4 linked regions of the Homo sapiens genome follow. The protein of the gene in region 1 interacts with the protein of each later gene in a pairwise test. Each region holds a gene or a part of one and is shown on either strand. Other genes may lie near its edges. The genes, in order: PPARA, FABP1, ALB and TNP1.

Region 1 (7,042 bases):
CTGCAGAGGGCGGATCATGAGGCCGGGAGTTTGAGACCAGCCTGGCCAACGTGGTGAAACCCCATCTCTACTAAAAATACAACAATTTAGCCAGGCATGGTGGCGCGTGCCTGTAGTACCAGCTATGTAGGAGGCTGAGGCAGGAGAATCGCTTGAACCCAGGAGGCAGAGATTGCAGTGAGCTGAGATCGCACCACTGCACTCCGGCCTGGGTGACAGAGCGAGACTCCATCTCAAAAACAAACAAACGAACACCAATATAGATTTCTTATATTGGCATCCTGCTAAATACTCTTCACATTCTCTGTTCCCACGTGAAGCCTGGGACTTTGAAGGCATTGCTACTGCTCTGAATTGAAAGCTTCCACTTACAGCTTTCTGCTGGAAAGATCCCCGCCAGCTGCCACCCTTAGCTGGGAATGGGAGCCTGCTCCTCTGGGTTCAGTGCACCAGCCCTGGATCCGCACTTCCCAGCCCTTCGCTGGCGGTTCAAGACTGTGGTTTTCAGGCTGCTGCAGTGGTGGTCGGCGTCTTCCAGTCACAGCTTGTGATCGGAATCTCTGTCCCTACACTACTTCTGGGTGTACACACCTTCTTCCCTGGGTCTGGAAACCTCTCTCTTGGCTTCGGAGGAATTCACTAGGCACCCACAACCCACCCTCAGTGTCATTAGTCATCACTTGTCACGCAAGTTCTTTGAACGCTGTTAGTGCCAGCTTTTTCTCTCAAGGATCCTTGGCTTCAAACACATTTAAATACCCTCTCCCCTTCATGCCTCTCATTTTCCAAAGCCTTCTTCCCAGGATAGCCCTCTCCTTTGAGTCCCACCTTCAAGATCTTCGCATAATTGAACTTAAAAAATTCCCTCTTTCAGAACACCTTGCTGAATAGACTAGACTAGGCTTCTTTTTATGATTTGAGTATTACAACAATTGAGTGCCTTCCTTTCTGGAAAAGGCTAACAAAGCGAGTTTTTCTAAGGAAAGAAGAGAATGAAAATCGCGTTCTAAACTTTTGTGCACTTCTGATTGCTTGCTTGTGAATCACAGGGAAGCCGTGCAGAGATGGGAAGCCCAACCTCCCTTGCCTGTATCTGGTGACAGGTTCTGTAACAGTTGTCAAAGTGGGGGGAAAAAAACGACAATCGTACAACTCAAGCAAAATACGCTGCTTCACAAATTGTAAAGTCCAAGGACACTGTCAACAGGTCAAATACTGCCCTGCTTGTTTCTATTACAAAAAACTTTTACATACTAAGAGATGATTCCAATTTAAAGCACATTTCTAACTTCTCTGAGCATTTTTTTCTTTAAACATCATTTGTGTTAATTTCATCCCCAATGCACAGATAGAACAGAAGCCAGGTGTGGTGGCTCATGCCTGTAATCCCAGTACTTAGGGTGGCTGAGGCGGGCAGATCACTTCAGGTCAGGAGTTTGAGACCCAGCCTGGCCAACATGGTGAAAGCCCGTCTCCACTAAAAAATACAAAAATTAGCCGGGCGTGGTGGCACATGCCTACAATCCCAGCTTCTCAGGAGGCTGAGGTAGGAGAACCACTGGAACCCCGGAGGCAGAGGTTGCAGTGAGCCGAGATCACGCCAGTGCACTCCAGCCTGGGCAGCAGAGCGAGACTCCAGCCTCAACACCCCCGACAAAAAAAAGAGACACTATCCCAGTTGTCAAGCTGCCTCATAAAATGAGCTAAAATGAGACTGCAGTCTAGAATTTATCAAATTTACTCATAATCCTAGGCAGAGGGCAATATGTTCCTCATGTTAGCAGCCCACTCAATGTTATTTTGTTCCATGTGGAAAACTGCCTGAAAATGCTTCAAAAAATTCATCCCACTTAAATATCCCTATTACCATTTCTTCCATAGATAACAGAAGAAAACTTGTTTCAGATCATCAAGATTTGCATGTCACTTGATTGGCAATCTGTATTTTACAAGCCATATTGCTGAATTATAAACACGCATTTAAATACTCATGTAAAGCTGACCACGAACTTCTTAGAAAGGGACATATCCACGTGTCAACCTCTAAATAACTGGGTCTCTTTTACTGAAACTTGGCAATTTGTCACCTTGGCGTGGTTATCACATAACTTCAGACGTATTCAGTTACAAACAAATGCAAAAAAACTTGGGGCCTCACTCTTTTTTTTTCTGAGATGTGCAGTGGTGCGATCTCAGCTCACTGCAACCTCCGACTCCTGGGTTCAAGCAATTTTCCTGCCTCAGCCTCCTGAGTAGCTGGGATTACAGGCACCTGATACCAAGCCTGGCTAATTTTTGTACATTTAGTAGAGACAGGGTTTCACCATGATGGCCAGGCTGGTCTCAAACTCCTGACCTTGTGATCTGCCCACCTCGGCCTCCCAAAGTGCTGGGATTACAGGTGTGAGCCTCCACGCCTGGCCTCGCTCACTCTTAAAAATGAAAAATGAAAAATGAAAGGGGGTGGGGGAACTTCAATATTCTGCTTTACTATAGCCTCATCTCAAACCATTCCTATGAAGCTCATAATCTTGGAAGCCATTAGTCCTTCTGTATTTGCCTTCCTAACTCTTACTATTCAAAATGATGCTCTTTCGAAAGTTGGCTTGTGGTCTATAAGTTAAAATATAAAGCAAGTAAATCTGAATAGAAATCTTCACTCCTCTTTATCTGCAAATCTCTTAAAATGGAGCAAAATAAAAGCATTCCGATGAGTCCTGCCTCCTGGAACACAGACGATATTTCATCTGAGTTTTCTCCAATTTCTCCTGGGAATATTTTAATGTGACAGTCAGAGCAGGAGAAGGACCCTCACCTTGTTAAATATCAGTGCTGCCCACCTCACTTCCCTTTCACCATACCCCTTCCCTATGAAGTCAGTTGTGTTGAATTTAAATCCATGATCTTGCAGAAAGAAAGAGGATTTTATTTAAATAGATCCTCAGGTCATCTTATAAAAATTCTATTTAATCCATAATATACCCCAAATCTAGTGATGATTATGAAGGGGACCCTTTCAGCGGCAGCCCTCACCTTCCTAACACCGCTGTAATGGGAGGTACATATTGGACATCTGGAGGAAACACCTGCTCCCTACAGAAGGAAGAAGAGCTCTCTCTCAGTCTAGGTGTGGGGGAAGCTGCAGAGGTCTGGGACAATTTCGCTGCGGTGGGATGGAGCGGGCCATCATCCGTAGGTGCCGCTGTCTGCACTCCTGTTTAGGTGCCTCCCCCTTCAGCCAGCTCCCACCTACATCTCAGTACTGTGGTGACCACACAGGCCCATCAATACATTCTTCTTGAATTAAATTCTATTAATCAGGTACTTATTCAATGAACATTTACAAGTACCTACTCAGTTTACACGGCTAGCGGGGCAGAAATAAATAAGACATCCTCTCTGCCCTCAAGGAGTTAGACTCAGCGAGGACAGTCAGACTAACAGAAACAGGGGTGCAGGCAGCACCGGGTCCTGGCTTGACGGAACTGTGTCCAGGCATGGGGAGATTCACTGGGCCTGCATTTCAGCAGATCCCTCTTCAAGATGAAGAGGCCTGGTCCAGGTATGCCATGGAGTTGGAGTAAGAGCAAACACAAGGTATAGCCCTGCCAAAACCTGAGGTCACAATCACCTTCAAAACACACAGGAGGCCGGGTGTGGTGGCTCACGCCTGTAATCCTAAGACTTTGGGAGGCTGAAGCAGGTGGATCACCTGAGGTCAGAAGTTCAAAACCAGCCTGGCCAACATGGTGAAACTCCATCTCTACTAAAAATACAAAAATTAGCTGGGCGTGGTGGCGGGTGCCTGTAGTCCCAGCTACTTAGGAGGCTGAGGTGGGAGAATTGCTTGAACCCGGGAGGCGGAGGTTGCAGTGAGCCAAGATTGTGCCACTGCACTGCAGCCTGGGTGACAGAGTGAGACTCTGTCTCAAAAACAAAAACAAACACATAGGAACCACTTGTAACAACTTTATTGTACTGGTGGAGAAATCTCACTTTTATATTCCAAAATGAAAACCAGTTTTGGTGTATAAGGGGTACGGTAGCATGTTGCTTTCTGAAAGCCTTTGAAAAATCCTAAAATGGCCACAGTGAAAACAACACAGGTATCAGACCTGGCTAAGTGAGAAAGGCAGGAGCCAGCGGTATGTCCTCCTTCTTAAGACACCTCCTGAGATGGGCAGTTTTTTAAGCTGCCACTTCGAGCTTCACAGCCCTTCAGAGAGGTGGTATGGAGAGGAACTTCATTTTCTGATGAGAAAGCAGCAGTTTAAAGAAGAGAACAAAGGTCTCCAGGCCTGGCAGGCAGCAGCTAAGGGGCTAGAATCCAAATCTCATGATTAATGACCTAATACCTTTTCCACTATATCAAGCTGCTTTGCAGATACACAGCAATATTTCCAGATTTCCAACCACTTTTACCATATGTGAGCCTCAAAACCAACGCAGCTCAGCTGCAAAGATAACCATGATAGGTTGAGACCTGGCAAGGAGTAAGTTCTTTTCTTTTCAAATGCATAAACTTTTAAGACACCGTAATATCACTATTAAAAGATGCTAATTAAATATCCTAAAAGCAAAGAATGCACACACCTCTGAGTAACGAGCAAATCCGGTCCTGTCTGGAAAATATGCCTGCATGGTGCTCCTTTCCAAAGAAGCTCAGTGCATGCAAGCGGCAGAAATACTTGGAAAAAGAAGCACATTCTTTTAAACATGGGCCGCTGGAACAGCTAAGGCTTTCTCCTATTTGATTCTTACCTTAAACCCATCTTATCACCAAGTTGAAAATGTAAATTCTGTGCCCAAGTTTCCCTAACCACATGGCCTTAAAGGTGATCTAGCTTATTCTGGGCAATTCATAAGGCTGAAATGACAGACATAGCACATTTCTACCCCATAATCAGAAACTATACCTTTTTAAAAAGTATCTACAGCTGGGCGCAGTGGCTCACACCTGTAATCCCAGCACTTTGGGAGGCCGAGGCGGGTGGATCACCTGAGATCAGGAGTTCGAGACCAGCCTGGCCAACATGGCAAAACCCCGTCTCTACTAAAAATACAAAAAATAGCCAGGTGTGGTGGTGGGCACCTGTAATCCCAGCTACTGGGGAGACTGAGGCAGGAGAATCGCTTGAACCCAGGAGGCGGAGGTTGCAGTGAGCTGAGATTGCGCCACTGCACGCCAGTCTGGGCAACAAGAGCTAAACTCCGTCTCAAAAAAAGAAAAGAAAAGAAAAATGGACTCTATGCCAGGCTACCAAAAACAAATAAAAACAGAGACTCTCAAGTTCCAAAAAAGCAGAAATTAGACAGGCCACAACCTCTAACTGCAATGTGACAAAATTAGTACAAACATTAAAGAAAAACACTGACTACTTGGAAGTAAAGACACTCATCCTATTTGCCATTAAAAATATATCCATCCACACACAGAAACCAATAGAGCAAAAAAAGAGAAGAAAAATTGGCATGTTTCAAATATATTTATAATAAGCAAATACATATTTTAATTAATGTGGTTTTTTTTTTTTTTTTTTTTTTTTTTTTTTTTTTTTTTTAAAGAAAGACCACTTATGCCGGGTGCAGTGGTTCATGGCTTAGTCCCAGCACTATGGGAGGCCGAGGCAGGAGGATGGCTTGAGCCCAGGAGTTTGAGACAGGTCTGAACAACATAGCAAGACCCCGTCTCTGCAAAAAATACAAAAATGAGTCAGGCCTGGTGGCGTGTGCCTGTGGTCCTAGCTGCTTGGGAGGCTGAGGTGGGAGGATCACCTGAGCCCAGGGAGGTCGAGGCTGCAATAGGCCGTGATCATGCAGCTGTGCTCTAGCCTAGGTGACACAGTGAGACCCTGTCTCAAAAATAAATAAATAAATAAATAAAATTAAAAACACTGCTTAAAGATGATTACATAAATATTTATTTATTTTTTGAGACCAGGTCTCACTCTGTCACCCAGGCTGGAGTGTAGTGGTGCCATCTCAGTCACTGCAACCTCCACTTCTCAGGCTCAAGGGATCCTCCCACCTCAGCCTCCCAAGTAGATGGGGCCACAGGCACACGCCACTATACCTGGCTAATTTTTGTATTTTTAGTAGATGCAGGGTTTCGCCAGGTTGCCCAGGCTGGTCTTGAAGCCCTGGGCTCAAGCAATCCATCCCCTTCGGCCTCACAAAGTGCTGAAACCATAGGCGTGAGCCACTGCGCCCAGGCTACTTAAATATTTATTTAAAAAACAGACTCTCCAAAACAGCATGCAAGAAAAAGAACACTGGCCACCAATTACTAAAGAGTAAGATGTCCCGGCAAAAATAGGTTCTTCATCTTTTACCATGATGAGGATTATCTTTAAGTTTCTTTTTTATATTCTGGTATGAAAATCAGTTTCATGGATTCATGCTTGTCTTGTTCAGCACTGCGGACAGTAGCCCACAGCAGCTACTCAGTCAATATTTATAGAATGACTGTATTAAATATATACACATAAAGAGATTGGCTAAATATTATTGTATCTAAACACAATGGGATATTATATAGACATTTCAAATGATGCAGAAATGTTTTTCACATAGGAAGATTTTTCATAACCTACTCGATAAAGCAAGTTACAAAATAGTGTATAAAGAAGACACATTTTCTCCTTCTTCTCTGTCTAGTTCTGTCTCTCTCATATACAATTTTTTTTTTTTGGAAACGGAGTCTTGCTCTGTCACCCAGGCTGGGGTGCTGTGGTGCCATCTCAGCTCACTGCAACCTCCACCTCCCGGGTTCAAGAGATTCTCCTGCTTCAGCCTCCTGAGTAGCTGGGACCATAGGCACCCGCCACCATGCCCAGCTAATTTTTGTATTTTTAGTAGAGACAGGGTTTCACCATATTGGCCAGGCTGGTCTCAAACTCCTGATCTTGTCATCTGCCCACCTCAGCCTCCCAAAGATTACAGGTGTGAGCCACCGCACCCGGCTGATACACAATTTTTAAAACTCTGTTCATAAGTTTGACAAACAGGAGCTAATGAAAACCACTGCAGTATTCGATGATTA
Region 2 (6,845 bases), on another chromosome or scaffold:
GCCTCCCAAAGTGCTGGGATTGTAGGCATGAGCCACCCGCCCAACCAGGTATGTATTATTCTTCCCAGAGCGTTAACTTTTCATATTGTGGCCTCCTTCCAAGCCCTTATACATCCTGGAAGAGATGACAGGAACCCAGCAGGGAGCCAAAGACCCTGGGCAACATTAAACATTTTGCCTCCAAAAAGAAAATTTGGAAAAGGCCCATAGTTAAATCCCTTGACCATGAGCACATCAAGAATATTATCCTCCTAAAATCATCCTGACCTGTAATGTTCTAATTGGAGAGGCAGAAATAAAGAGTGACCAGAAGAGATAAAAAGCAAACACGCCCAGCCCAATGAACAGAGCTGTCCACGGGGAGGAGAGAAGAGGGCTGCTAGAGCATGGAGTGTTTCAGAGGGAGGAGGAGACGGGCACCCCCATTGCCAGGATCCCCCTGCCACCATCTGCCAACCACTCACACAGCCCACACCCCAGCTGTCATTGCACACCATGAGTTGTGCCCAGCAGAAGTGATGCTGCCCTGCACTGCCTTCAGTCTAGGGAGGTTGACTGTTCTTATTTTACAGATGGGGTGGCTGAAGCCAGAGACTTTGTGACCACCCCTGAAGGCAGGGTCTGAGCACCTGTCTGGGGCCCTGGTATTCTGGTATTGCTAGCACCTCCTTCAAGAAGTCTCTCCCTATCACCACCAGCTCTAGGTTCAGTGAAGGCCAGTTGACTTTGGGCTCAGTTAAGGGTTTTTCACAAACTCCCACTTGCCCCACTCCTGGGCCCTGCTTAGAGGACTCTTAGTGCTAGGAGCACTGGGCCTGGGAGAACCTGAGACTTAGAATCCTGCTGTATGCCTGGTTCTCCCATATCCTCCATATGGGAGAGCTCAGACTTTAGGGGCTGGAACACCCCCCAGACAGTCCCTGGGAAGAGGAGAGCAGCTTCTCTATAAGATTCTTCCCTAAGAGCTGCCTTTGTCTCTCTGCTTCTCCCACATGGGAGGTGGGTTCAGAGATGGTATCTGTGGGTGGAATTGTGAGGTTTGAGCCTTGAGGAATGAGGTCCCAGGGCCAGGTTCCAAGGAAAGTTCTGACAGCAGAAGGGATGCCCTCCTACCTTGACTTTCTCCCCTGTCATTGTCTCCAGCTCACATTCCTCCCCCACCGTGAATTCGTTTTGGATCACTTTGGACCCAGCGGTGATGGTGAACTTGAAGTGCTTCCCATTCTGCACGATTTCCGACACCCCCTTGATATCCTTCCCCTTCTGGATGAGCTCTTCCGGCAGACCTGGTGGAAACCGTCTGAGGTTTAGATATGGGCAGAGGTGGGAGTTTCATGACCGTGGTAGGTAGGTGAGAGAAACGACATGACATGGAGGGACAGAGAAGGGCACTGTGTCTCCCAAGGGGCCACAGAAACTCACTGGGGGCTTGTCAGCAGCATCGGCTGTGGCCTCAGAAAGGAAGGGACAGTGACCTGGCCTGGCCTGCTGCTATCTTGCCAGTCAATTTATAAAAAGGACACTCTTCTGGCCTGAAGAACCGTTCCTCTTGTAAGCACCCTGGTTCTTGCTCACTCTCCTTCCTCATTCCCTCCTCCTTTGATGACTTTGCTCTTGGAGTGTGAGCATTTCATTCCCCATACCCCTGGTGACCAGAGAGTTGATCTTCCAAGCTAGGTCCCTCCTGCAAGTGAAAGGGGAGCTGCTGATAATCATGCCAGGCCAACATACACAAAGCGGCACTGTGCCAGGCAAGCCTGTGTCCACCTCTGCAGTCAAGGCTCTGGAGGAAGACATACCAGCAATCCCTTGCCCTGGGATAGAGCTTTACCAGTTTCAGAACTTGTCTATGCTGTTATACAAATTGAGGTTCACAAAAATTTTGTGGGTGGACAGTGAGCACAGAGGGTCCTGTTGCATGAGGGAGAGATGAGAGACACAGAGGTGGTATGGCTTGCCTGCAGAAGATCCTTCTCTGGCAGCACTGAAGGTCCTTCTCTCCCTGCCCCTGCTGTCTTCAGCACCCTTCTCATTCTTGGCACCCTCCCTTGCCATGCCACACCCTTTGCTTATAGGGCTCCCTCTGCCTGGAGCATGCTCCCTGCCCCCAGTTCCCTAGACACCTGTCTTCCAAAGCTCAGCCTGAGCCTTCTCTTTACCTCCACTGAGCCATCCCCCCATGCTCTCTGTGAGCCACATCCTCCTGTACATGACCCTAGGAGGCACAGGGGTTAAAGCAGGGTCTCTGAGAACCAGTGCCTGCTTCCAATCCTAACTTAAACACTTCCTACTTGCATGACCTTGCTTGTGATTACTAAACCTTTCTGGGCTTCAGTTGCATTAACTGTAAAGTGGGAAAATAATGGTACCCAGCTTAGTTTTTTGGCAAGGAATAGATGGGGTATTGCATATCCCATGGTCAGCACAGTCGCCTGGCACAGTCAGCGCTCCATACACCTGAGGGAATGCCTTATTACCTTTATTTCTTCTCTTCTCTTCCCTGATAAGAAAATGCCTTATTGCCTTTATCATCTGTCTCCCTGGTATCTATCCAGCACAGTGCTCAGTGTGTGGTTGGCCTTGAATCACTGTTTGTTTGAAGAATGAATAAATGCAGGAATAGGATCACACAACGAAGTGCCAATGACATGGCCATCAATCCAGACCACACCCTAGTTCAGTGCTCTTTCCACTTGCCTATGGGGTGGCCTTGTGCAGTGAGGACTTGCTGCAAATAACTCCAGAAGTCAGTAAAATGCCCCCTAGTTTGTGTATATAGCCTGAATCTCTCCCCCCATCTCAACATTTGGACCCTAAATAGCCACTGCTGGTAGAGCTAGACCCTCACTGATGTGACCCACAGCTTTGCCTTTCAGTCCAGCACTCACCGATTGCCTTCATGAAGGCTTCAAAGTTTTCCTGGCTCTGCAGTTGGTACTTGCCGGAGAAACTCATGGTGGCAATAGAGCTCCCTCTTCACGACTGACCTGCGGCTCTGCCGACCAGACTGTCCACTGTAGGCTGTTTTATAGGGGGCTCCCTTCCCTTCGAATAGCGGCCAGAGGTCAGCAGCTGTTGATTCCTTTATGGCCAGGTTCAAACATTAACTCCTGAGAGCAATGGTCAATGATAAAGAACAGGATGGGCACAGCAAAGGTTTGCTGTAATTCAGCAAACATTAATGAATATCAGTCAAGCAGGAAGCCTTATGGCCCTGCAGCCTTTAAGTGACTCTCCGCACCCCACGAAATGTGTGTATATGCAGGTATGTGTATATGTGCACACACATGTGTATGTATATAGATGTGTGCGTATGTGTTTGTACATCGGTGTTTATATATACATATATGTATTTTGTACATAAAGATGTATGAATGTGCATATATGTAATGCATATATACACATTATATGCATGTGTTTATATATGTCTGTACACATATACACACAAGTGTGTGGGTGCATGTGTACACACACAGAAAAATACCAGAGAATTCCTTTGAACTCAAAACCTCACCTTATTTACATAACCTTATGATCTCTTCTCACCCCCATTATTACACAAACTTATTTTTTAGAGTTGTTATCAGCCGCTAGTGTTATTTTGTATTCTGGGAATTCCTCCTTGATGATTATAGGCTCCTCCACAGGCCTTTTTGAGGTGTTAAAGCAGTCCATGCTAAATGGCAGGTGTAAAACATTGAGACGCATTTTATTAGGCAGAGACAAGGCAGGAGAAAGTGGCACCTGCTGACTTGCTCCAGCCCCACTGAGAAGACAGGACAAGGGATCTGGGGTTATGTGTAGGAAACTGGTCTTGTAGGGTTATGTGTAGGAAACTGGTCTTGTAGGGTTATGTGTACAGCACTGGCCTTGGGGAGATGGCCCAGCAGGGCTTCCAGTGGCCTTGGGATGTGCCAGTTTGTTGTGAAGCACAGAGAGGCGTGGTGCCCAATGGGTGCACGTCCCAGTTCCTGCCTCTGAGGCAGCTCCTTACAAGCACCCCCTCACCCCTAGATTCTCTCCCTTCTTTGTCTGGACTTTGGCGTCAACCTTTTCACCTGCAGCCTCCAGCCTTCATCCTCTGGGCCTCCTCTACTCTGTGGTTAGACAGATCATCCTGAAGCATAGGCTGAGTCGGGCCACTGCTCCAGGCATGAGCCTCAGTGGTTCCCATCACTTCAGAGGCCACAGGTCCTGGATGGCCTAGTGTCACGTGACGGGTCATGATGGCCACCCCCAATAACACTTCCATGTCCCTATCATGAGTTCTAATTTTTGGCTTGGAAAATGACTCCCATTGCCTAAACTTCTAGCAGGGCTGCCAGCCCTCAAAAGGCAACTCCAGTCTACCTTTCCATCCTTTTTCCTTCCTTCTCCTCAAGCCACAGTTCCAGCCACAGGGCCAAGTGGACACATCGGGGGCGTCCATGCCACTCTCTCTGCCCTCCGTGGTCTCCAGCATTTGGACATGTTGATCCAGCAAAGCACTTCAGAAGTTCTCTCCTCCACCCACAGTCCCAGTGCCAGGGTCCTTCTACAGCATCCCTGACAGGTGGTGTTAAGGTGTACCCTGCCACAGGGAGGTCCTCACCTTTGGAGCAGTGTGGGCAGAGAACACTCACTAATGGAGTGTCCTGCCATGCAGATTCTGGCACCAGCAGACCTTTCCCTCCAGCACAGAGGGGTGCTCTGGCCCTCCCTGCTTGGCCCTCCTCTGACAGTGTCTAGGACACAAGGTGCCTCCCAGGCCATGAATTGGGGCTGTCCCTGCAGCAAGCGAAGTGGGCCTGCATGCTGAGAACTTATGGCTTTTTATAATCACCACGACTACCTGAACAGCGGGCAGGAAGGGGCGAGGTGGCTCAAAGAAGTATGGGCACACCCACAGTCCTTCTCTCATCTTGCTCTGAGCTTTGATTATACATCTTTTAACATGTCTATTGTACTAAAGGGGTCCATATTAGACCCTGGTCTCCAGATGGGATGCTGATTTTTCATTTTTGTATATGTAAGGAAGTAAAAAATCCATTGTCTTAAGAACTGGCATGAGAATTCCTAGTGTGTGTGTGTGTGTGTGTGTGTGTGTGTGTGTGTGTGTGTAAATGACTGGATTAGCTGCCTGGGAGACAGAGTGTGTGAGACCCCAGACCTCAGACCCGTGTGTCAGCGAGAGCCAAGCTGGTGAAGAGAAGGGCAGCTCCCTCATGCAGGAGACCAGGAGAGGCTGGGTGTGTCTTCCTGTCCCTCCCCCAGACTGCAGAAAGGAGAGAGAGGAATGTGGCAGGCAGGCAGGAGAGAGGCCACCAAGAGGGCATGGGGTGATGGGTCACTGAGATACCCCCAGTGACCGCAAGGCAAGAAGAGCTCCAGGATGGCATTGGCTTTGAAGCTGCTCATTTGCTGCAGTGAATCCCCATCCATCTTTCTTTAATTTCCACCCCAACTATTTCAAAAGCTTCAGTAAAATATAGTGCCTGAATCAATATGTGAGCAAGTGGAAAATGATGCAAGGCTGAGCTTTATTTCTGGATGGATGTGATGAGGCTGAGATGGCACATGCAGAAGCAGTACCAGGAAGTGGAGTGTCTGTGGGGATGCATTCCCTACAGGGTTCCCCAGGTCCCTAGACATCCTAGGAAGGGCTTTGGAGGAATTCAAGGTCATTTTATTTAGATCCCATCTGGGTTACATGTGACACCTAAAGCCTGCACCAATAGCTGGCATATGTCTGTCTAATGACCATGTGAAGGTTCAGCCCAGGGCTAAATTCAGCTCTATACCTGAGATCCTATTCACTACCTACCTAAAGAGCTCTTCTAGCATTTGTCAAGGAAGGAATACGTAAACACTTGCTTAGATGGGGAGCTTAGGAGTTTTGCAGCCTAAAATCAATGAAATAATCACCGAGGAAAATGACCGTGATAGAGTCATTACCATGCCCAACTCCCATCACACCCATCAGTTGCTTCGTTTGGGAGAATCTGCTCCAAGTGCCCATGTTATCTCATGCCCCCAGCTGCCTGCCTGACATCCCGCTCAGATAAAGGGATGTCTGGCTTATACATTCCACAACTAGGCCCTCTCCCCTTGATCGCAAATGTCAAGTATCATGCCCCACACTGCTGCTTTCTGGGATCTACGGAGGGGAGTGGGAAGGAGCGTCATGAAAGCTTCTCCATAGAGCAAGTCAGCACCAACCCCGGAGGCCTCAGGTGAAGTAGGGACCAGGTGCACCTTTCCTGGTGTCTGAGGAACAGCAGGACCCATGAGCTGTCTCCTTGTGGACCACTCTGCCTCACCCTGCACTTCCTGCCTACCCTGTCCAGGCAACGCCTGCAGACTCAGAACAGCATTGGGAATGCAGCTGACCCAGAGGTTGGTCAAGGGCCTGGCACAACCAGTGAAGCCTTGACAGTTTCCCTGGCAGATGGGCAGCCTGACAAGTAAATTGAGCTGATCAACGCCAGGCCAGGACTCCCCCTCTCCCCCAGGTCTGAGATATGGCCATTCTTAGGCAACCCCCGATGACTTCCCTTTGTCTTTTTTTTTTGTGTGTGTGTGAATCTTGAGGGCACAGAGATCAGTAGCCATTTCAAAAACTAATACTCATGAGTTTTCCATAAAGTTAGGAGAGGGTAATGACATCTTCCACCCACTAGCTGAGCAAACACAAGAAGAGATAAGCTTAATTGCAATGACAAAGTTCAAGTGGCTTTCAAGAAAGAAAAAAAGAGACTCCCACTCTGTGGGCACAGCTTTGGAGTGTCCAAAGATTCTGGCCCTGCTCACTCCACACTAGACATCCCCTCTTCTCACATCCCTACTCAGACGGGCAGCGTGCAGGT
Region 3 (7,690 bases), on another chromosome or scaffold:
ATAGAATCAAAGAGTATAATGCTGGTTGCCAGTGGCTGGGGGAGGACGAAACGAGGGGTTACTAATCAATGGGCACAAAGTTTTAATACAGCAAGATGAGTAAGCTATACAACAGTGTACCCGTAGTTAACAATAATGGATTGTACACTTAAAAATATAACAGGGTAGATCTCATGTTAAGGGTTCTTACTATAATAAAATAAGATAAATAAATAAATAAATACATGCTATCATATCCCTATTAGCCTCTACAAAAAGAAACCAAACCTCAAATTTTAAAAAGAGGTGTTTATAAATGACAAATTGCCATTTAAATACACCATGACTGTTGTGTTTGGTCTCAATAAAGAAATGATTTTAAAACTGTGGACATAGCTAAAGCATCTCTATCACAAAAGAAACAATGGCTTATCAGTCTATGAGCAACTTTTTAGTGTTTCTTACAAATCAGGACACTTAATAATAATTGAGAAAACTTAAAAAAAATTCCTTTGAAATGCTTGGGATTACTTCAAACAGAAGAAAGAATCTCCACAATTAGAATGTACTTACAAGTGATTTGTCACAATTTTCAGCTGACTCATCAGCAACACATGTTTTTGCAAATTCAGTTACTTCATTCACTAATTTTACATGATCTTCAAATGGACACTGCTGAAGATACTGAGCAAAGGCAATCAACACCCTGAAACAAAGGATGTAGAAAAATGTAGTATAATAAAACTTTAATATGTAACAGGTTGCTACGCTAGAGAACAAATCATGTATGGGTATAGGTTCTATCTTTTATACATCTTCTTCACCATTATCCAGAAAGCCTATTCATATCAGGTATGATCTGAGGCCTAGATAGGCATATGTGGCTTCCTACGCAAAGAGAATGGTAGTTCCCTAATGTTTATATGTATGCGTGTGTCAGTAGATCTATGCACACACATAGATTAAGCAAGCAAATTGTATGCCAAATAGATCTAATTGTCAAGACTAGGCATTTTTAAAGTCCTTAGAATTACTTAAAACTAAAACAAACCCCACAGATTTCCTTTTTCTTTTTTGAGACAGAGTCTCACTCTGTCACCCAGGCTGGAGTGCAGTGGCACAATCATGGCTCACTGTAGCCTTGACCTCTCAGGTCCAAACGATCCTCCTACGTCAGCCTCCTAAGTAGCTAGGACTACAGGCATGTGCCACCATGCCTAATTTTTTTGTTTGTTTGTTTTGTTTTTTTTAAAGAGACTTGCCCAGGCTGGTCTTGAACTCCTGGGCTCAAGCAATCCTCCTGCATCAGCCTTCCAAAGTGCTGGGATTACAGGTGTGAACCACCGCACCTGATCCCCACACACGTCTTTAATTAGCCTGTAGGATTAGGTAGACTTTTAAAAAAACAATTTTCTCATTTTTTACTAGATTAAAAAACATTTAAATAGGCCGGGCGCGGTGGCTCACTCCTGTAATCCCAGCACTTTGGGAGGCCGAGGTGGGCAGATCACGATGTCAGGAGATTGAGACCATCCTGGCACACGGTGAAACCCCATCTCTACTAAAAATACAAAAGATTAGCCGGGCGTGATGGCGGGCGCCTGTAGTCCCAGCTACTCGGGAGGCTGAGGCAGGAGAATGGCGTGAACCCGGGAGGCGGAGTTTGCAGTGAGCCGAGATTGCGCCACTGCACTCCAGCCTGGGCGACAGAGCGAGACCCTGTCTTAAAAAAAAAAAAAAATTAAATATTCCCAACTAAGCACAGGAATGCTTGCTATGTAAAGAAGATTTAGTGGGTAAGCCACCAAAGGAAACCTATATTAAAGTCCTTTCCACCAAGCAAGTTCCAGAGCTGTACTGTCCAATACAGTAGCCATTAGCCACATGTGACTATATACATTCAAATTAACTACAATTAAATACAATTTAAGTTTTTGTTTCTCAGTTGCACTTGTCATATTTGAAGTACTCAATAGCCATGTGACCAGTGACTACCTTATTGGATAGCCCAGATACAGAATATCTTCCTCAACGCAGAAAACTCTACGAGGCAGCACTGTTTTAGAATCTGAACCCTGATGACAAGGAAATATAAGCACTTTAGAATAATAAACAACACTATTAGAAACATTAAATTTGATTCATCAATATTTTAACTTACAAGGCTTTGAAATTTTCTTCTCCCAAATCTTTAAACCGATGAGCAACCTCACTCTTGTCTGGGCAAGGGAAGAAAAAAAAGGATTGTTAAATACTGAAGAAAACAAGAAGTAATAATGTTACTTTTTATATTTCTTTCCATTTGACTTAGATTATGCATTTGTTTCAAAATATTGGGCTCTGATTCCTACAGAAAAACTCAGGATGATGTTCAATTATTTCTTCTGCCTTTAAACAGAAGAATAATTCAATTACCAAGAATACTATTTTAAAAATTATTAAATATTTATAGCCTTATATTCAAACTTAGATAATATCTAATACTCTTTTAGTGTCTATCAACAGCAACCAAGAAGACAGACTAAAATGAAAATAAATATAAATACAAGTTCTATTTATGAGATCAACAGCACAGGTTTTGTGGTTTTTAAATAAAGCATAGTGCAATGGATAGGTCTTTGGGATAGTTATGAATTCAATCTTCAACCCTATTCTGTGAAGTTTCAGTCACTCTAAGTTACTTTGCACTTTCCTTAGTGCGCAAAAGAAAATTACAGTCACTAAACAATTCTGACCTTTTTTTTTTTTTACCTAGGATGTTTGAATTTTATTAATAAGATAACCTTGTAAGACTTCACAAATACAAAATACTATGCCATTTTAGAAATAAATGCCAAAATAATTCTTTAAAGATGCAGAGTTTACTAAAACTTTATTTTACTGGGAAAATAGAATAAAAGTTGAACAATAGAAAAATGGATTTCTTACGTGCATCTCGACGAAACACACCCCTGGAATAAGCCGAGCTAAAGAGAAAAAGAAGGGAAATAAAGGTTACCCACTTCATTGTGCCAAAGGCGTGTGGGGTTGACAGAAGAGAAAAGCTAGGACAAACGGAGGGAAATTAGCACTAATATACTTCTTTAACCAATAATTGTAGATTATTAACTAGACTCATCTTTGTATTTCATTGGCTGCCAACCGATTACAAAATTCATAATATTCTTGCCAAAAAATTGTTTGACTAAATCCCTTGTGTATATTTACCATCTGGAACTGTTTTCTCCACAAGACCTTGTCAATGTATTAAAGTTGTGTAAAACATCTTATCAAATTTTACATAAGAGTTTAAACGATTTGTACCTTTTATTCATTACCATGGTATTTAACTGTAATTTCCCACTTGAACATTTTAGTTCTTGGTGTTTGCAATTTAGTTCTCAGTGTTTAGTAATTACTAACCAAACTAAATACTTTGCTTAGAAATAAGACATACTGAAAGAGTTAAGTCCCAAATTGCATCTATTGCTAATTCCAAGTGTGCTTTTACCTATAGATAATGAAAAATTTACACACAAGTACTCACGCATGCACACACACATATACATACATACATATTTTAGGGCTTCTGTGTCTTTTTTACTATTCCAAAGCCATTCTGTCTGAAAAAGCTGATGTTGCCTCAGATGCAAACTAAGAAAAAGACATAGCAACAATAACAAGTAAGATAGGACTTAGAAATTCCATGTTCCCATTCCTGCTGTGGCCCACATGTGATTCAAGCCCTGAGATAGGCTATTTAGATTCAGTGTGAGTATATCTCATGGGATCTTCAGTTAAGCAGAGATGGAGAGGAAAATGGACCCAAATGAGATGATGATTATCTTTGCCATAATATACAATAGGACAGGCTGACCCCAAATTCTCTGTAGGTTATGAGAACCCTTGACCTTCACCAGGCATAGGATTCTTTCCATCCCTGTTTCATATTTTTTTCCTTTCTCTCTTTCAATAAGTAGAAAAATCACATGTTCTTTTATGTTGCTTTAAATTTCAAAATAAATTTAACATTATGTCTAAAAACAAAGCGAAGGAAGAATAATTTTTTAAATATTTCATAAATCTTCCTTCCCTACCCAAGGTTCTTATCTCTACCTCAGAAAAGCTATCCTACCTCTGCCCTTTTGCTCAGAATATGAAGAACTACTGAGCTCAACCAGTAGGAAGAACAACTTTCTCTGATACTACAGAACAATAATTAGTACTAAGCCAGTTATTTTACTTAATTAAATAACTCAGTCAGTCAAAACCAGTAGTCAAATTTCCTCATGGCACATAGAGGCACAGAGACTAACAAAGTATTATTTTTTCTACTCAGTCTTATAATGAAAGAAAATTTTTTCTATTCAGTCTTACAATGAAAGAAATTATTTTCTATAATCTTATGTTATTTCTTCTTCAGAAATGGGTACTAATTAACTAATAAAGCACAGAAGAGGAAAAAATCAAAGCTAGATGGATGATAGATACATAGATAGATAGGAAGATTTTTTTTAATGACTCAAGGGAGTCCTGAAAGGAAATACCAGACTTGTCTTTCTGACTACAGATGAACAGACATAAAACAAGTGTGCCTATTTTCCATTGAAGAAAAACAAGCATTTTTTCTAAAGCCAGAAAAACCTACATCTGAAAAGAAAAAAGAAACTATTCTAAGTTAAGAAAATAATTCTTTCTTGGATAAATTATGTCAACTTTTAACTTCCTAGAAATTGTAGGCATTATTTATTAGAAGTCAGTAACCAACTCTAGCTTTTTCCTTGTAGAAGTCCCTGGGAAAGGCCTACCCAAACATAAAATCCTTACTGTTGAATACAATTGTTACTAATTGACAAATTCAGGCCTTTGTCACTCTCACATATACTTTGTGCATACTTTTTCATTTAACAAATGAAAAGAATAATATTAGTCCATTTAGTTTTCACCACAACATTATAATGTAATATATTGTTAAATACAAAGAAACCTAAAAAAATCTCAAATTCATCATGACTGAATAGAAACTTTGAATTGATTTTCCTATATCTAATGAAGAGCCCTAGCTTTAAAACAAAATTGATGAAACCTAAAAGAATCTTTTCTTTTTTTTTTTTTTTTTTTGAGATGGAGTCTCGCTCTTTCGCCCAGACTGGAGTGCAGTGGCACTATCTCGGCTCACTTGCAAGCTCCGCCTCCCGAGTTCACGCCATTCTTCTGCCTCAGCCTCCCGAGTAGCTGGGACTACAGGCGCCCGCCATCACGCCCGGCTAATTTTTTGTATCTTTAGTAGAGACGGGGTTTCACCGTGTGCCAGGGTGGTCTCGATCTCCTGACCTCGTCATCCGCCCACCTCGGCCTCCCAAAGTGCTGGGATTACAGTCATGAGCCACCGCGCCCGGCCAAGAATCTTTTCTTACAGTACTAATGAGGCATTTTGCATATGTGCATCCTACTAAAAGATTAATAGTTTAGAAATTAAAATATTTAATTCTCAATGATATCTGCATACTTAAAATTAATGTTTCTTAAGAAATACTTGAACAATTGCATCTTCTGGATTTGCAAAGTAAAAATTTCTGCATTTTTCTCTGAAAACCTCTGGCATTAATTCTATATGAACATTCTATACTGAGAGAAATAAACCTACATAATTGTTAGTCATTTCTAAATTTCCTGTTCTTCAAACTTTGAAACTCTGTTTAGTCAGTCATCAACGGGCTCTGGCATGAGGGTAAATGCAAATATTTAGAGTAAGAGTTATAAATATGGTTTAGAGATTCTCTTTACTCGGTAAACAGAAAAATAGCCCCAATGATTTTTAAATGTTTTCTCATCTTTGTGGGAGAAGTTTAAAAATAGAGAGTAGTTAAGAAAAGTATTTTCTTTAGAAAGAATAAGTGTACTGATCATTTAGAAAAGAAAAAAAAAATACCTCAATTGAAATGTACATATACCTGGGATTTAAACCTGAGCCTTTAACCCTTTTGTTCTTTGTTTTGCATTCACTTTGACGTGATACAAAAGGCACAGTTTTTAAGTAGATAAAATGTCTCTGAACCGGTCTCCCATTTTCCAGCCACTCTAACAGTAACTTTAAATCCGCACCCTTCTGCTACCCTCAGGACTCCCGAAGCTTCTCACTGAGTCATTCACACCAGGTTTGCCCTCCATCTAGCAATCCATTTAGTCCAGCTTTTATGCCATCTCCCACTCTGATAGGTTATATTTCTGACTCTTCTTCTCTTAAAGATAAAGGGAAACATATTCATGGAAATGTAATAATATCTAATAATATCCTCAATATTTTATAAGAGACTTTCTATAAACAACCACTTTACCCAGAGTCATTCCAAAATACAAGAAATTTGGATTTGTTTGGAGAGAAAATTGGGGACAGGAAAATCTTACCATTTTTCTACTATAAAATAAACATATGCAGATCCTTCCTATCATGAAGAGCTTGTATTACTCTCTACAAAATATGCAAGAGTGGAAAAGTGAAAGACTGTTAAGCATCAAACTAACCAATTGAAACATAATCAGTAATTTAACTTCTTATTCACTTATGGAGATACATTTCCCTCAAAAAAAGTTAGAATGAAAGTGTATAAACTTATATAAGTATTTCTAATGCAAATAAAAATGTATAAACATATAGGTATTCTAATGCAAATAAAAAATTGGAATATAATCCAAACAATTGCTCCCTTATTTCCCTCCATAAGCCATCCCCCCAGATATTCACTTGAATTAGTGAGAAATATGGAATTGGCTGAAGATTTCATAGGGAATGAGGAGAAAAAAGGTTATATCATAAAAACCACCCTAGGTCACCATCTTTGGCTTGTCCCACCTTTTAAGTCCCTCTGCCCCCAGATCTTCCATGATGAAAGAGTCCCTCTCCTTGACTTTCTTCATGTTACACTGGGCCTCTGGAATATATATACATTCGAATTTCCTAACCTTTTACTTTAAATTTCTCAGTTCTTCTCCGTGTGGTTTAATTCAGCTCAGTGTCAGTTTCTAGCTGCAGAACTGGACATGCAGATCTGCATATATCTCTATGCCATATGGGTCAAGTTGGACTAAATTATCTTTAACGATCCTTCTACCTTGAACATTCTGCAATTCCATGTTTTCAATGTGACAGCCTTATCAAATGAGAAAAGGACCTGAGTGGTAGGAAAGAATATATCAAGTTAGGCAATTAGGATTCAAGTTTGAGAGCTTGTTCATTCCTAAGCCTCACAATTGCTCCTCAAGTATTACGCTCTAGCTAGTTCAGCTTAATATTTTTAAAGAATAAAAAGTTCATTTAAACTTATTTAAACTATATTAATGAGACTTTCTCATATTTTTTTATCAAGTTTTTCAAGTGCAAGAAAAATATAGTTAATGTCTGCAATCCATGTTTATCCATTCTTAATAAATTAACAACTAATAGAATCTATAAACATATAAATTGAAATTAATACTAATCCTGTCTCATAAGGATAGCCACAGATGGAAATTAAACAGAAATGAATGCACTTTGAATCTATTCATATTCTATATTTTAAACATGAAATTCAAGAAACTTGTTACTTAAGTTTAAAGTTATAAAATTGAACTTTATCAATCTTCTATAAAACAACTAAGATTGTATAGCTAAAATAGTCTCATGTTGAAATTTTAGTGGATAGAGTTTAGAATGTTTTTATTAAAAGGTATTTTTTCTTCTTGATGTCTTCTA
Region 4 (5,239 bases), on another chromosome or scaffold:
ACAAAGAACATGTTGGTCTCTGTTCAGAAGGTGTTCCCATCTCTTAGCCTGCTAATACTGCCCATATGATCAATGAATTAAGAGCTTCTAAGAGCTCCTCCAGGTGATCTCTATCTCCGGGCCAAGTCTTTAGATTTAGTTTAGCTTTCAACACCTCTATGCTATAAGCTCTGACGAAAACAGCTTGCATCCTTTGGTTTAAGCTCTAACAAAAACAGCTTGAATCCTTTGGTTAATGCTAATGAATGCATTTCTCCCTTTTTTATCTCTTCTCCCTTTCCATGTTGAGGAGAGAGACAGCACACTGGGATGAAGACAAATACGGCAATAGTGTGTGGCCAGAGTAGGACCACCTCCCACGGTGGTGGGAGGGAATTGGAGGACAAATTACTTTTGATATTTTCCAAGTCACATTTAATGGTTTCATACTGGCCAATTCTTCCCCAAACCCACCTAGCTCAGGAACTCAAGTCTTTCCAACCAAAAGATCAAAGTAAACATTTCTGCTTTCAAAGTTTTATTGAGATGTTGGGGAAAAACAGCCAACATATACATTCCTCATTTCGTCACAACTGGCATTTGATCCACATTCCATAGGCTCCTCTCTGGCTTTGATCTAACATCAGGTCTCCTTGGCAGTTCCCCTTCTGCTGTTCTTGTTGCTGCTTGGTGCTGTGTGAAGCGCACCAGGGCAGAGCCCGCTGGGGGCTCACAAGTGGGAGCGGTAATTGCGATTGGCTGTGGGAAAGGACAGGTTTGCAACAGAGACACGAATTAGAACATTCCCATCAAGACTCTTGTTGCTCAAATCTGCATTTAGTTATTGGAAATAATCTCAGGCCAAGATTTCAGGGTCCTGTGAGAGCTGCCTCCAAGAGGGAGGGCCTGGCAGCAATGTGTGCCTAAGTTTGGCAATCTCCTCCCCATCCCTCACTCACCGTCATCGCCCCGTTTCCTACTTTTCAGGTTGCCCTTACGGTATTTTCTTTTGCTGCCACCTCTCTTGACTCCCTTGTGAGGAGATCGGCTCTTGCTCCTCCTCATGCCATGACTCTTTAATTTGCGGCTGGTCGACATGGTAAGTTCTGCCAAAATGAGGGGCTTTGCAAGGCCCGGGGGCCAGGAGTCTGGGTATTTAAGGCCTTGGCCATTGTGACAGGGAAGGGGCATGGCTCAGCAGGTGGGCGGGGCTCTACTGTGCTGTCACTCACCTTTGCTGCACTTTGGTCACATTTGTGAAATAAGGTGGTCCTTTTCGTGCAGCTCAAGGGCTGCCCTCAGTTTTGAGGTCCTTTTTATGTTAAGTGAGGCTTTCCCAGAGAGGTGTTATTGAGAAACTGAATCCCAGCCCTGTGCCAGGCATTGGATGAGTACAAGAGACCATTCAGATATGCTTCTCCTGCCTGTAGGAAATGTAACAGTCATTGAGTGTGTGTGTATGCATGACTGTTTAAGTCTCTCACAGCATCCAGAGATAATAAATTTATTTCTGTAAGGACTTGACTCTACAGAACCCAATTCAATATGATCAAAATAGAAATATTCCTTCTTTTTCATCTAGGTCAGGATTTCTCAGTCTTGGCACTGTTGACACAATGGGCAGGGTAACTTTCAGTGGGCTGTCTTGTGCACCCTAGGATGTTTGGCAACATCCCTGGCCATTACCCACTGGACACCAGAGAAGCCTGGCAGCTATGACAACCCAAAATATTCCCAAACATTGCCACCTGTTTCTTTGGGAGGCTGGGGAAGTGAGGGAAAAAATGGCTCTGGTTCAGAACAATTAACCTAATCATTTTTTAAAATTCAGTCACAGATATTGATCACATAGCATATGCCATACATTTAGGTGGTAGAAAATTAGTGGAGGATAAACACACGTAGATACTGTGCTCATGGAACTCTCAGCCCACTGGGGAGAAAGCCATTCATCAGATGTCTACATAAATCAGTGAGTAAGTACTTACGGAGTCATTTTGGCTGGAGAAGGGCAGAGGGAAACTCCCTACATGGTACAGGATGAGGCTGGAGGGAGAGACAGAGATCAAACCATGATCAAGTACATTGGGAAGCCTTTAAAAATGTTAAGAGGATGGCATGTGAGATTAGAGGGTGCCAAGTGGGTGATGTATTGACTGGAGGAGCTGTGTAAAGGGAGATGCTACTGTCAACATCAATGGTTCAGCAGAGAGAAAGATTTGATGATGGTTTAGGTCTGGCCAGGAAAGGTGTTGATTGAGATCTAAAGTAGACAAGAGACCAAGGCTTGGTGACGGATTGAATTTGGGAGGTGAAAGCAGATGGTGTCAAGGGTGTGGCTTTTGTTTCTGTATAATGCAGTTATCTGGATGCTGGTGCCATTCATGGGGATAAAGGCCAGACATGGGGAGAGTGATGATCATGTACTTGGTATAAGACATACCAGCTTTGAAGTGCCTTTGACACTTACAAATAGATATATTGAATGATTATTGGTGTATAAGTCATCCAGCCTTTCCTTTTTCCTCCATTACACCTCATAGTAAATGCTTTGCTTTTGAAAATGTTTCTTTCTTTTTTTTTTTTTGAGACCGAGTCTTCTCTTTTGCTCAGGCTGGAGTGCAGTGGCACAATCTTGGTTCACTGCAACATCTGCCTCCTGTGTTCCAGCAATTCTCCTGCCTCAGCCTTCTGAGTAGCTGGGATTACAGGCGTGTGCCACCATGCCTAGCTAATTTTTGTATTTTTAGTACAGACAGCGTTTCGCCATGTTGGCCAGGCTAGTCTTGAACTCCTGATCTCAGGTGATCTGCCCACCTTGGCCTCCCAGAGTGCTGGGATTACAGACGTGAGCCACTGTGCCCGCCTCATTCGGATTTCTATAGAACTTGTTTGCTATTTCTTCCATTTGTCTCTCCTCTCTCCATTGTCATTACCCTCATTCAAGAACTGAGCATCTTGTATGCAGGAGATCCTTAGCAAAAGTTGGTTGAATAGAAGAGCGAAAGTAGTTCAAGTCCCACTCCCTGGTTTTCTGATATCTATAGATGGCAAATTGAGTTTTGAAACCCAGATTCCTTGTATAGCCACCATATGTGACACTTTCCATTTTCCTGCTTCTGGGCAGGTCTCTCTGGAGACCTTCTATTGGTGACTTGTTGGTGACTTTTATTCACATGAAGAAGTTCTATAAAACAGGCTGCTGGCTTGCTTGTTGGTAGTCCAGACCTTCTGCGTCCACTCAAGGCTGGTTGTTTCTCCTACAAACATGCCCCCATGAAAGCAGGGACCTCTGTGAAAGCAGGAATTGAGAAATTGGGCTCACTACTGAATATTCCCTGGGAGTTCATCAGTCCTGCCACAGAATAGAAGCTCAGTAAGTATTTGTGAAATACATTTGGTCAATGAATAAAAAGTCCTTCTTTTATTTTTCTAACTATCCTGTTCCTTCCCATTTTGCCCCACATCTCTAAGGAAGACTTCCCAACTTATCAAATTTTCACTGTCCTTTGAAACTTCTTCAAAGTTTATTGTCTGTATAATATTGGCTTTAAAGTCTAGACAACCAACCCTAATTGTGTGAAATCATGTTTTATGCCTGCATTGCCAGCCATGTGTGTTAGACTGGTTTCAACAGGAGGTGGTGTGTCTTCATTCTGGTCCTGACTGGACTTCTCTGGTCGTTAGCTCCCTTATTCTAAAAATAAGCAGATTGGGCTAGGTGATCTCTGAAATGATCTGACTTTGGCGATAGCCTCCTTCTCGTTAGGGACTGTACCTTTTATTTCTACTGCATTTTCCGCAGGTACTAGCATGGCCCACACTAGGTGGTCAGTAAATATTTGTTCAGTCTAGCTGCTTTGGTATATTATGAGGACAGACAGTTCAACACAATCACAGTGACTTTGCATAAGTGGGGCCATTTCAAGGCAGGGAAGAGAGAAGACATTGTCCTCACAACAGGTCCTCTGGTGCTCTGTGTCCACCTCTCATGCCTGAAACCATTGGCTAAAATGTTTACAGAGGAACTGGCCTCTTTGGTTTGAGAGACATTTTTCTGGATGGTCCTGAAGGCTGGATACTATTTCTCTCCCCAATCCCTCCCACCCCCAAAAGATCTGCTCTGCCAAGGAGAAGCTGAGATCACAGGGAAGAAGGCAGCCAGACTCGGGAACTGATGAAGAAACAAACAAAAAAGTCCCCTTTGCCTAGAGTTGAGGAGCAGTTCTGGTTCCAGACACCCATGCTGAGAAACTTAAGCAGCAGAAAACCCAGTGGGGGACGGGGAAGGCGATTCACAGGCCACTCAAGAGTGGGGTGTGGGGGGTGTTTGGGTTGGCTCCTGTATCGGACCTCCTGGAGTGAGGATGGAGCAGGGCTGAGCGTTGGTCTCTGCTGCCTGTCTCTGTTTCTCTTCCCATTTCTGCCCCAGTGTTGCTCAAGCTAGCAGCAATTTAGATAGAGCCTAGTGAGCTACTTCTAACCTTTAGCAGGTCCAGGATGAGGCCCTTCCTTGAGAATCATCTGTTAATCCAGTCTGCTCCCTGTCTCACCATTTTGTTTTTTTCTGCTATCTTTGCACAGAGAGGACATATGAGTGACTTCAAATAACTCAGCATAGGACTAACAGGGACAGCCCCATAAACCTGTTTCCTTTACACCTTAGCTTCCCTGGTGGGACTCAGCTTTTTTTTCCCTTAATGAAAGGAAACGACTATGTTCTGAACATTTTTGGCACAGAAAGAGAGAGAGCTAAATTCCTGGCCTTTTGAGAAGAGACACTATCAGCCTTTTCTTTTCTTGGGGCTCAGTGAGTTCTTGCCTGGAGAAAGGTAAATGGACAGGATGGTGTCTGTATCTCCTAGACGGGTAGCTAGGGTTACAGTGCAGGAAAGGGCTTGGAGGCCAGTGCTCTCACTGGTCCCTTTCCTAGGCTAGGAGGGGTAGCCTTAGGGTGTCACTGTTTTGGAAGTCAGATCTCTAGTTAGATTCCATGTCACTTCTCCAATTCAAACTCACTCCATTAATTTTCCCGGGGAGTCCAGTGGATGCCTTCATAGGGCCGGATCTTCCCAGCAGGCTGAGACTTGGGGCTTATGAAGAGGGAACATGGAAAAGTTGCTGACAGTCCTTATACCTGTCGATGACTCAGTCTGAATCCCTCTCTGAAATCTAAGTCTCTCCAGATGCTGACCTCGGCTGGGAAGTGGGGACCTTTTACCCAGTTCACATGCACACCCTGTCTTCTCTACTGTTGTTA

What was found.
Region 2: the proteins of PPARA (region 1) and FABP1 interact in a two-hybrid assay, tested with the Homo sapiens proteins (one study listed by BioGRID).
Region 3: the proteins of PPARA (region 1) and ALB interact in binary tests that used the Homo sapiens proteins (3 or more experiments, as listed by UniProt).
Region 4: the proteins of PPARA (region 1) and TNP1 interact in a two-hybrid assay, tested with the Homo sapiens proteins (one study listed by BioGRID).

Annotation. Positions count from the first base shown.
Region 1 is NC_000022.11:46,153,508-46,160,549, reverse strand, and holds part of PPARA (peroxisome proliferator-activated receptor alpha), read right to left. Parts: intron 1-7,042. UniProt on the Homo sapiens protein: Ligand-activated transcription factor. Key regulator of lipid metabolism. Activated by the endogenous ligand 1-palmitoyl-2-oleoyl-sn-glycerol-3-phosphocholine (16:0/18:1-GPC). Activated by oleylethanolamide, a naturally occurring lipid that regulates satiety.
Region 2 is NC_000002.12:88,125,063-88,131,907, forward strand, and holds the start of FABP1 (fatty acid-binding protein, liver), read right to left. Parts: upstream 3,001-6,845; 5' UTR 2,956-3,000; coding exon 2,889-2,955; intron 1,287-2,888; coding exon 1,114-1,286; intron 1-1,113.
Region 3 is NC_000004.12:73,399,624-73,407,313, reverse strand, and holds the start of ALB (albumin preproprotein), read right to left. Parts: upstream 3,028-7,690; 5' UTR 2,987-3,027; coding exon 2,908-2,986; intron 2,199-2,907; coding exon 2,141-2,198; intron 686-2,140; coding exon 553-685; intron 1-552. UniProt on the Homo sapiens protein: Binds water, Ca(2+), Na(+), K(+), fatty acids, hormones, bilirubin and drugs. Its main function is the regulation of the colloidal osmotic pressure of blood. Major zinc transporter in plasma, typically binds about 80% of all plasma zinc.
Region 4 is NC_000002.12:216,858,958-216,864,196, forward strand, and holds TNP1 (spermatid nuclear transition protein 1), read right to left. Parts: upstream 1,108-5,239; 5' UTR 1,078-1,107; coding exon 939-1,077; intron 739-938; coding exon 710-738; 3' UTR 501-709; downstream 1-500. UniProt on the Homo sapiens protein: Plays a key role in the replacement of histones to protamine in the elongating spermatids of mammals.